Linked DNA regions of Homo sapiens: region 2 is linked to region 1. The links come from fine-mapping of genetic effects on gene expression. A gene starts in region 1. The other region holds a variant in brackets. All regions are shown on one strand. Distances are between the middles of the regions. Region 1 holds the start of WDR70 (WD repeat domain 70). Region 2 overlaps WDR70 (WD repeat domain 70).

The links. PIP is the estimated chance that this variant, and not a neighbour inherited with it, causes the effect.
Region 2: its variant is the best candidate, but not a certain one, in a credible set for the expression of WDR70 in blood mononuclear cells (TOPMed, PIP 0.85).

Annotation. Positions count from the first base shown.
Region 1 is chr5:37,376,964-37,382,342 of GRCh38, reverse strand. WDR70 (WD repeat domain 70) reads right to left here and starts at 3,025. Exons shown (of 18, transcript NM_018034.4): 1 at 2,951-3,025; 2 at 2,789-2,854; 3 at 658-741. The coding sequence starts at 2,975.
Region 2 is chr5:37,684,839-37,690,217 of GRCh38, reverse strand. All of the region lies in intron 10 of WDR70 (WD repeat domain 70), which reads right to left. Among named protein-coding and RNA genes, the nearest start is that of GDNF-AS1, 150 kb to the left of the region's middle. The variant T/C (reference allele first, on the strand shown) is at 2,310.

The sequences.
Region 1 (5,379 bases):
GCAGATCACAAGGTCAGGAGTTCGAAACTAGCCTGGCCAACACAGTGAAACCCCATCTCTACTAAAAATACAAAAAATTAGCTGGGCGTGGTGGCATGTGCCTATAGTCCCAGCTACTCGGGAGGCAGAGGCAGGAGAATCGCTTGAACCGGGGAGGTGGAGGCTGCAGTGAGCCGAGATCATGCCATTGCACTCCAGCCTGGGCAACAGGGCGAGACTCCATCTCAAAAAAAAAAAAAAACAACAGTGATAAGTAGCATAACAACATTCTTTTCTCTCTTTGTTCTCTGAGATGGAATTTCACTCTTGTCCCCCAAGCTGGAGTGCAATGGGGGTATATCAGCTCACTGCAACCTCTGCCTCCCGACTTCAACTGAAGCCACTGCCTCAGCCTCACGACTAGCTGGGATTACAGGCCCCTGCACCATGCCCAGCTAATTATTGTATTTTTAGTTGAGATGGGGTTTCACCATGTTGGCCAGGCTGGTCTCAAACTTCTGACCTCAGGTGATCTGCCCGCCTTGGCCTCCCTAAGTGCTGGGATTACAGGCATGAGCCACCGCGCCCAGCCAACATTCTTTTCTCTTTTTTAATATACTTGCATGAGGTATACATAGTACTTAAACCAATAAAAGAACAAATATCTGAGCTTCTTACCCAGTGTTTTGCGACTTCTTTCCACAGCTGTCCTTCGAGTTTGTTCAAACATTGCTTCCAAGTCAAATGTGCGAGCTTTTTTACCTAAAACATGAACAAATGGGAGACTGTGATTGTCTTGCAGTAAGTTGGCCAAACTTTAGGTGATCAATACTGATCAATAAACACTTACTTTGTCTAGTTTATAGCATGGCTCCAATATAACCATAATATATCACAGAAGAAGGAGTTTGAGTCACAGAAAACTTCTGCTGACAATCCCTTCACTAAGTACTATTAACCAGGCAACTTTCCCATCCTCCTCTAGATCCCTACCCTATGAAACAACAACACTGATGTGGGGAGGCAAAATGGAGAATGCCCCAAAAGTTACCCTTTGCAATATAATTAAGGTTATGGACTTTTAAATAGGGAAACTATCCTATTTGGCCCTTAAAGGCAAAGATGCAGAACAGCTATGGCAGAAGAAGTCAGAGAGATCCAATGTCTGAGAAGAATTTGAGGCATTATAGTTGGCTTGAAGACGAAAGGGGCAACATGAGAAGTAATGCAGGTACTTTAAGGAGCTAAGAGGGAAACAGAAATCTCAGCCCTCTAACAAGGAACTGGATGAGCATGGAAACATTCTCCTCCTCCCCCAGTAACTTTATCAAAACTCTTAAAATTTTCCCCTATTTGGCACAAACATATGGACAACTTTCTCACTCCTGAGTAAAGGAATGATGTACTAAAATGAAGGATTTATACCGGGTGGGGTGGCTCATGCCTGTAATCACTTTGAGAGGCTCAGGTGGGCGGACTGCTTGAGCTCAGGAGATTGATCAGCCTGGGCAACATGGTGAAACCTCGTCTCTACCAAAAGTATAAAAAATTAGCCAGGTGTGGTGGCACACATCTGTGGTCCCAGCTACTCAGGAGACTAAGGTGGGAGGATGGCTTAAGCCTGGGAGGAGGAGGCTGCAATGAGCGAAGATCGCACTAGTACACTCCAGCCTGGGTGACAGAGCGAGACTCCATCTCAAAAAATAAAAAAAGAATAGAAAAGGCTGGGCACAGTGGCTCACGCCTGTAATCCCAGCACTTTCGGAGGCCGAGACGGGCGGATCACGAGGTCAGGAGATCGAGATCATCCTGGCTAACACGGTGAAACCCTGTCTCTACTAAAAATACAAAAAAAAAATCAGCCGGGCGAGGTGGCGGGCGCCTGTAGTCCCAGCTACTCGGGAGGCTGAGACCGGAGAATGGCGTGAATCCGGGAGGCAGAGATTGCAGTGAGCCGAGATCTTGCCACCGCACTCCAGCCTGGGCGACTGAGCGAGACTCCGTCTCCAAAAAAAAAAAGAATGAATAGAGAAACTACAGAACTAGTATGTGTGAACACAACCCAAGGCCAATATGTGTAAGTCTACTGTTTAATTACTATCATAGAATTAATACACGCTGGTCAAAAGAAAACAAGAAGACCTTGAGAAAAGGTTCAGGGAAGTTAGAATCCCAATGTTTGGATGAACAGCATTTATAATTTTAAAATGGAAAATAAAGAGAAATCATTTTTCATGTATCAGTCTACTAAGTTTTGTTTTCATTTTTTAAATAATTTTCTTTTTAAATAATAATACCTACTCTGTGTTGGTAGGGATATGGTAAAAATGGCATTCTTAATTCTGTTAACTTTGGTATAACCTGGAACAAGTTTTTTGATGGGTATTACGGCAATAAGCATCAAGAAGCTTTAAAAGGCACATACCCAATTTTTCAGCTTTTTAAGTATTTATATTTCTGAATAAACTACACTCTCTTTTAGAAATCTACCCTACCGAATTACGTATTTTTAAAAATCCTCGTACAAATGCTGTTATTTACAAAAATGTTCATTTTAGCATTATTGGTGACTTAAAATTAGAAAAATCCTTTCTCTTCCTCTCTCTCCAGACTCTCATAACTGTCATCTGAGTTGGTTCCAACGGATAACGCAGAATAGAAGACAAATGGGAGAAGAATATTGACAAACTGCAAGGTATGCACCCGAGCTACAATAATTCCGAGTTGACAGCTCGATCTCCACTCCCACTCTGCGGATCTTCAAACCTCTGCACAAGGAAGAGGGTCTCTGCCTGGGGCAGTCACTCACCGAACCCCGTGAAGCCCATGGTGACCGCAAGCTGCGGGTCCGGTCCCGACGCGTCTGAGCCTGTCACTGGAGCAAGAGGAAAAGAGAGGCGGCCTAGTTAGTGCGGCGCCCCAGCTCCCCCGACACGGCCCACCCCGCCCGGACTCGCCTCATGAAACCCACCTTCGCTGGGCCCAGAGCGCTCCATGGCTGGCCGCACACCCCAGAACCAGCCACAGGGACAGCCCAAACAACTGCAGGGGAACTTGCCAATAACTTGCGGCAAATGCTGGAGGAAGTACCGCCTTCAAGCTACAGCGGCGCCGCCGAAGCCAAGAGCGGCGCCTTCCGCAGAGGGACCGCGGCTTTCTGCGCGGCACCGCCCTACCGGACAGGCGGGAAAGCGCCGCGCAACTCAGACCACTGGAGGGGAGAAGTAGTATCTGGAGTTTCTATAACATCCTTTCCCTTTTTTTTTTTTTTTTTTTAAGCCAGAGCCTCTGTCGCCCAGGCTGCAGTACAGTGGCGTAATCTCAGCTGACTGCAACCTCTGCCTCCCGGGATCAAGCGATTCTCCTGCCTCAGCCTCCCGAGTAGCTGGGATTACAGGTGCCGGCTAATTTTTGGTTTTTTGTTTTGGTTTGTTTTTTTTTTGTTTTTGTTTTTGTTTTGAGACGGAGCCTCTGTCGCCCAGGCTGGAGTGCAATGGCGTGATCTCGGCTCACTGCAACCTCCGCCTCCCGGGTTCAAGCGATTCTCCTGTCTCAGCCTCCCAAGTAGCTGGGATTACAGGCGTCCACCACCACGCGCAGCTAATTTTTTGTATTTTTAGTAGACACGACGTTTTGCCATGTTGGCCAGGCTGGTTTCGAACTCCTGGCCTCAAGTGATCCGCCTGCCTCGGCCTCCCAAAGTGCTGGGATTACAGGCGACACCCTTTGCTTTTTTTTTTTTTTTTTTTTTTTTTGAGGCAGAGTCTCACTCTGTTGCCCAGGCTGGAGTGCAATGGCGTGATCTCGGCTCACTGCAACCTCTGCCACCCAGGTTCAAGCTCTTCTCTTGCCTCAGTGTCCTGAGTAGCTGGGATTACAGGCGCCTGCCACCACACCCGGCTAATTTTTGTGTATTTAGTAGAGACGGGGTTTTGCTATGTTGGCCAGGCTGGTCTTGAACTCCTGACCTCAGGTGATCTGCCCACCTTGGCCTCCCAAAGTGCTGGGATTACAGGCCCCGTGCCACCGCGCTCTGCCTTTTTGTTGTTGTTGTTGTTGTTGTTGACTGAGTCTCCCTCTGTTGCCTTGGCTGGAGTGCAGTGGCGTGATCTCAGCTGACTGCAACCTCTGCCTCCCAGGTTCAAGCGATTCTCTTGCCTCAGCCTCCCGAGCAGCTGGGACTACAGGTGTGCGCCACCATGCCCGGCTATTTAGTATTTGAGACTACAGGCACCCGCCACCACGCCCAGCTAATTTTTTCTATTTTTAGTAGAGGCAGGGTTTACACCGTGTTAGCCAGGATGGTCTCAATCTCCTGACCTTGTGATCTGCCCACCTCAGCCTCCCAAAGTTCTGCGATTAAAGGCGTGAGCCACTGCACCTGGCCTGTCAGTCTAAAGTTTACAAGGCTAATCGTGTGCTCAGGATTGTCCTTCTTAAACAGAATGTGGGAGTTCAACACTTTAACGTTTAGAAGGTGGAGAAGAATCTCTTTCTTTTTGAGACAGAATCTCACTCTGTCACCCAGGCTGGAATGCAGTGGCACAATCTCGGCTCAATGAACCTCCACCTCCTGGGTTCAAGCGATTCTTGTGCCTCAGCCTCCTAAGTAGCTGGGATTACATGTGACCGCCACCACACCCGACTTTTTTTTTTTTTTTTGAGACAGAGTCTCGCTCCATTGCCCAGACTGGAGTGCAGTGGCGCGATCTCAGCTCACTGCAACCTCCGCCTCCTGGGTTCAAGCAATTCTGCCACAGCCTTGCGAGTAGCTGGGATTACAGGCCCTGCCACCACCCCTGGCTAATTTTTGCATTCTTAGTAGAGACAGAGTTTCACCATGTTGGCCAGGCTGGTCTCAAACTCCTGACCTCAAGTGATATGCCCGCCTCAGCCTCCCAAAGTGCTGGGATTACAGACGTGAGCCACTGTGCCCGGCCTAATTTTTGTATTTTTTGTAGAGATAGGGTTTCATCATGTTGCCCATGCTGGTCTTGAACTCCTGAGCTCAAGCGATCCACCCGCCTCAGCCTCCCTAAGTGCTAGGATTACAGGCGTGGGCCACTGCACACAGCCTATGAAAGAATATCTTATACCAAACCTTGTACCTTTGGCGCTAAGCTGGATAAGAAGTGAGCATCTGATCAGCCAAGTCCACTGCTCCCATATTATCGTTATAATCCACAATGACACATGGCTTCTTAGTTTTCTTTCCATCTGTTGTCTACTTCAATCACAGTATCATTGTGGAATATTGACAACATTGTGACTGCCTTGTTGTCACACCATTTCAGTGCCATAAGTTCACCATGGAATTAACATCACACATAGGAATGCTATGTTTTCTAGGATTTGACATTTTCAGCAGTCGAGAATTACTATATTTTGTAAATGGAAATT
Region 2 (5,379 bases), 310 kb before region 1:
TTTTCACATAGTCCCATATTTCTTGGAGGATTTGTTCATTTCTTTTTACTCTTTTTTCTCTAACCTTGTCTTCTCACTTTATTTCATTAATGCGATCTTCTATCACTGATACCCTTTCTTCCACTTGATTGAATTGACTATTGAAGCTTGTGCATGAGTCATGAACTTCTCGTGCCATGGTTTTCAGCTCCATCACGTCATTTAAGGTCTTCTCTACACTGTTTATTCTAGTTAGCCATTCGTCTAACCTTTTTTCGAGGTTTTTAGCTTCCTTGCGATGGGTTCAAACATGTTCCTTTAGCTCGGAGAAGTTTGTTATTACCGACCTTCTGAAGCCTACTTCTGTCAGCTCGTCAAAGTCATTCTCTGTCCAGCTTTGTTCCATTGCTGGCGAGGAGCTGCGATCTTTGGAGGAGAAGAGGCACTCTGGTTTTTAGAATTTTCAGCTTTTCTGCTCTGGTTTCTCCTCATCTTTGTGGTTTTATCTACCTTTGGTCTTTGATGTTGGTGACCTACAGATGGGGTTTTGGTGTAGATGTCCTTTTTGTTTATGTTGATGCTATTCCTTTCTGTTTGTTAGTTTTCCTTTTAACAGTCAGGTCCCTCAGCTGCAGGTCTGTTGGAGTTTGCTGGAGGTCCACTCCAGACCCTGTTTGCCTGAGTATCACCAGCAGAGGCTGCAGAACAGCAAATATTGCAGAACAGCAAATATTGCAGCCTGATCCTTCCTCTGGAAGCTTCGTCCCAGAGGGTCACCCACCTATATGAGGTGTCTGTCGGCCCCTACTGGGAGGTGTCTCCCAGTTAGGCTACACAGGGGTTAGGAACCAACTTGAGGAGGCAGTCTGTCCGTTCTCAGAGCTCAAACGCCATGCTGGGAGAACCACTGCTCTCTTCAGAGCTCTCAACAGGGACATTTAAGTCTGCAGAAGTTGTCTGCTGCCTTTTGTTCAGCTATGCCCTGCCCACAGAGGTGGAGTGCATAGAGGCAGTAGGCCTTGCTTAGCTGCAGTGGGCTCCACCCAGTTCAAGCTTCCTAGCTGCTTTGTTTACCTACTCAAGCCTCAGCAATGGCGGACGCCCCTCCCCCAGCCAGGCTGCCGCCTTGAAGTTCGATCTCAGACTGCTGCGCTAGCAGTGAGCAAGGCTGTGTGGGTGTGGGACCCGCCGAGCCAGGCACAGGAGAGAATCTACTTATCTGCCGGTTGCTAAGACCTTGGGAAAAGTGCAGTATTTGGGCAGCAGTGTCTCATTTTTCCAGGTACAGTCTGTCACGGCTTCCCTCGGCTAGGAAAGGGAATTCCCCCGACCCCTTGCGCTTCCCAGGTGAGGCGATGCCCCGCTCTGCTTTGGCTTGCCCCCTCCATGGGCTGCACCCACTGTCCAACCAGTCCCAATGAGATGAACCAGGTGCCTCAGCTGGAAATGCAGAAATCACTTATCTTCTGCGTCGATCACACTGGGAGCTGCAGACCAGAGCTGTTCCTATTTGGCCATCTTGGAAACCTAAATTTGCTTATTTTTAAATGATCATTCTGAACACATGTGAACAGACTGGGAATATTCTGTTCCTAGGACAAACGAAACTCTGCTACCAACCTCAATAAGGAAAATTTGCCACTTCCTTATATCCCATCAAGTTACCAACTACTAAACTCTAAATGAAACTTTTGGAAGATCTTATAAACAGTGGTAGCAGTTTACCCAAAAGTCCTGTACTTCATTTGGCCTAAATGAATTTAGTTTTTTATTTGTTTGTTTTAAAAGTTTTGTTTGTTTTTAATGTTAAGCAATACGTATAGATATCCAAATAGAAGAAAGACCTATCATTTCATGAGTGATAAGACAGTTTAGTACAGTAAAAAGGGCACTGGGCCAGGAACCAGGAGGCACAAAATCTAGATTCAGTTCAAGCAAAAGCTAGCATTGTGACCTGGGACAAATTACTTAGCTTGTCTGGTTCACACTTCTGTCTTCTGTAAAATAAAGAGATTGAAGTAAATGATTTCCAGGGTCATTTACAGCTCTATGACCCTTAGGGAAAAGGCAAAACAGGCAAATGCATAATACTTTATCATTCAATTAACTGATCAATATATACTTTATTAATAAGATAAAATCTTGAATGTCGATATTTGAAAATATAAGTAAACACATGCATATAGATGTGTATGCATATATATACCAGTAAACAAAGTGAGATAAAGAACCTTAAAAGTTATAGAGTCCAGTGGATTCACATCACACAAACTTCAGTGTGAGCCCAGAGCATGCAGACAGTTCCATATGACAGTCTTAACTTGTTGCTC[T/C]GGAGAAGAAAAGAGATGGTATTGTGAATCTGATGCTCCCTAAATTGGTCTTCCTTCCCTGTGCTTTTCACTACCCTGAGTGGGATTCTAAGGTAGAAAGACATATAGCCTTCCAGTGCTCAAGTAAAGAAAAAGTAATCTGTTTCTGAAATTAAAAAAAAAAAAAATTCTGCTAGATCTAACAGGTGATAGTGTAGATACAATATAATGAACGGAATGAGAATATGGGATTTTGACTACAGGTGATTTTGTCTTGCTGTAGTATGAGGAGACTTCACCAAATATTCATCTGCTACGTGTTTATGTCTCCTCATTTAGGATTCCCTTTAAAGGAACATTATATTGGAGGTGTAATGTTTTGAAACTTTTAGAATTCATTATTTATAATGCAGAATGAGTGAATATATGCTACAAAACAAGCCCCATCCAGTCTTTCTGACCTCCAACATATTCCATTGCAACACCTCTTTAAAGTAATAAATGGCTGGATATTAATAATTAAGATCCCACAGGAGAGGGAGAGATGCACTCAAAATTAATTCATTTTGTCTTTTAAAGGACCTAATAAAACAAAGAGGCACAATGTCTTTAGTTGATTGAGATGAAGACCTCCCAAATTTTATATCAAAAAGTGCTCTTCAATTATTAACTTCACCTTAACCAGAAACAAAAGTATATTCCAATGAGGAAAAAGAGACAAAGGTGACCTAAAATTTGCATCAAACATCAACACTTGGACAGTCCATTATGACAAATATCCTCACACTTTGAAAACAATGTCAACCTAACTGAAGAACACTTCAGGCATAATGTCGGGAATCTAAAACTGCAACTTGTCCTTTAACTGCTGTTATAATCATCCTAAGCAAAGAATATCGTTCTTTAGGAAGCTGAGATTGATAATTAACTACCTTATATAGGCTTATTATTATTATTATTATTATTATTATTATTATTTTGAGACAGAGTTTTGCTCTTGTTGCCTAGGCTGGAGTGCAATGGCACAATCTCGTAGGCCTCTTATTCTTAGGTGTGCCTTACACTATGATTTGGAGAATATCAAGACTCAAATATTCACCAAGATGGAAAACGCAAGCACAAAATCCCAGAGTTTTGAAGGCCCTGTCTGGGATCACACAATACAAACTCCCAATTGGAAAAATTGTCTGTATACCTCTTTTCTCAGCAGATGGTCATGGAGCCTCTGGAAATTCAAAATGCATTACATTATAAGGAATATCAGTCAATTTCTGGAGCAATCCTCCTGCCTCAGCCTCCCAAGTACTGGGACTACAGGCACAAGCCACCACGCCTGGCTGGTTTTTATACTTTTATTTTGTAGAGCCGGGGGTGGTGGTCTCAGTTTGTTGCCCAGCTGGTCATGAACTCCTGGGCTCAAGCGATCTTCCCGCCTAGGCTCTAACTGGCAACAACTTTTTAAGCTGGGTCCAAGACTCACTTCTAACAACTACTCATGGGTCCTGGTTGTCTTCTGTGGCTATGCTGACTAAATCTAGTTTTTCTTCTCTGACAGTCTGACAAATTATCAACAGAAAACTCTGTCTTCCATAAAGTCTTTTTTTTTTCCCTTTGTGAGACAGGGTGTCCTTCTGTCACCCAGGTTGGAGTGCAGTGACATAATCATGGCTCACTCCAGCCTCAACCTCCCAGGCTCAAGCAATCTTCCTGCCTCAGCCTCCCAAGTACTGTGACTACAACACAAGCCACCATGCCTGGCTGGTTTTTATACTTTTATTTTGTAGAGCTGGGGCGGGGGGTGGTCTCACTTTGTCGCCCAGCTGGTCATGAACTCCTGGGCTCAAGCGATCTTCCCGCCTAGGCTTCACAGTGTTGGGGGAGATTTGGGCAAGACAGCTGACTACATGCAGCCGGGTGGAACAGCTGCCACCAAGGAACCAGGATGACTGGCACGCTCCTAGCAGATCTTCAGAGGGAAGACACTGCGAGTAGACAGAAGACACAGAAGCTGGGCTGAAGGGGGAGGAAGCTGGGAACTTGTGTGGGGTTAGAGCACACTGGACTCATTTCTGGCCCCCAGTGACTCCTGGGGAGCAGGTGAAGTGAAATAGCAAGGAGCAACCCACTCTCGCCACGGGCCTTTAGAATCCCAGGAGGAAGAGACCCTTCAACCACCATGGACACTTAGTTGGCAGGGAGAGCTGCTCAGAAAAGTAGTAGGGGCAGCGTGCCAGCCAATAGAGTTTGGTGTGGGAGCATCTGTGGTAGAGCACCAGCAGGGATGCCCATACCCCTAGGATTGACTTGCTTCCGTAGAAGACTTTGGCTGTAGGGAAACTGTTTGACATGAACACTGTAGGGGCAGTCTTGCCCATCAGATGGGGCTGGTCTGACCTGAGTACCCCTAAGTCAGCTGGCCTCTTCCAGGGTCCCAGCCTGGCTAGGTCTGCTTGCAGTGCAGCCTCGGCAACCCTGGGGGCCTATATCATAGCTCCTACACTGGCAGACCATGCCTGACCAGTGGAGAGCTCCAGTGGGGCAGCCCCCTGTGGCCATGCACCAGCCTGCCCACTCCCTCCCCTCACTGCAGCTTCCCCCAGGCCCACGGCAACCACCTACATCACTCTGCTGGTGTGTGTCTACATGAGTGGATTTTGCCTTCCCTGCCCAACCAGTGTTTGCCTGTTACCTGTCCTAACACTGTTACTGGTAAGAGCGCACACCACCTCCTCACCCCCACTATACCACCATTGCAGTCAGTGCCTTGGTGGGCACAGAGCCCATCAGCCCCACCCCCACCAGCACCCCATCCCAGTGCCAACACTGCTGCCAGAGTGAAAATAGAGATGGAGAACACTGGACCCTCCCCAACCCTGAGCAGCCAACCCCTGGCTGCATGAACATGCACAGAGGGCACACACAGACCTGTGCTTGCCAGCTTCCTAACCCCATGCTAATACCACCACCAGCATGACCACATACACACCAGTGTGGGCCCTCATGCCCCTGAGCTCTGCTTCCTCCACTGCTGCTGGGAATGCCTGTGCAGAGGCAGGCACCCCAGTACCTGCTAGCACTGCAGCCAGTGAGC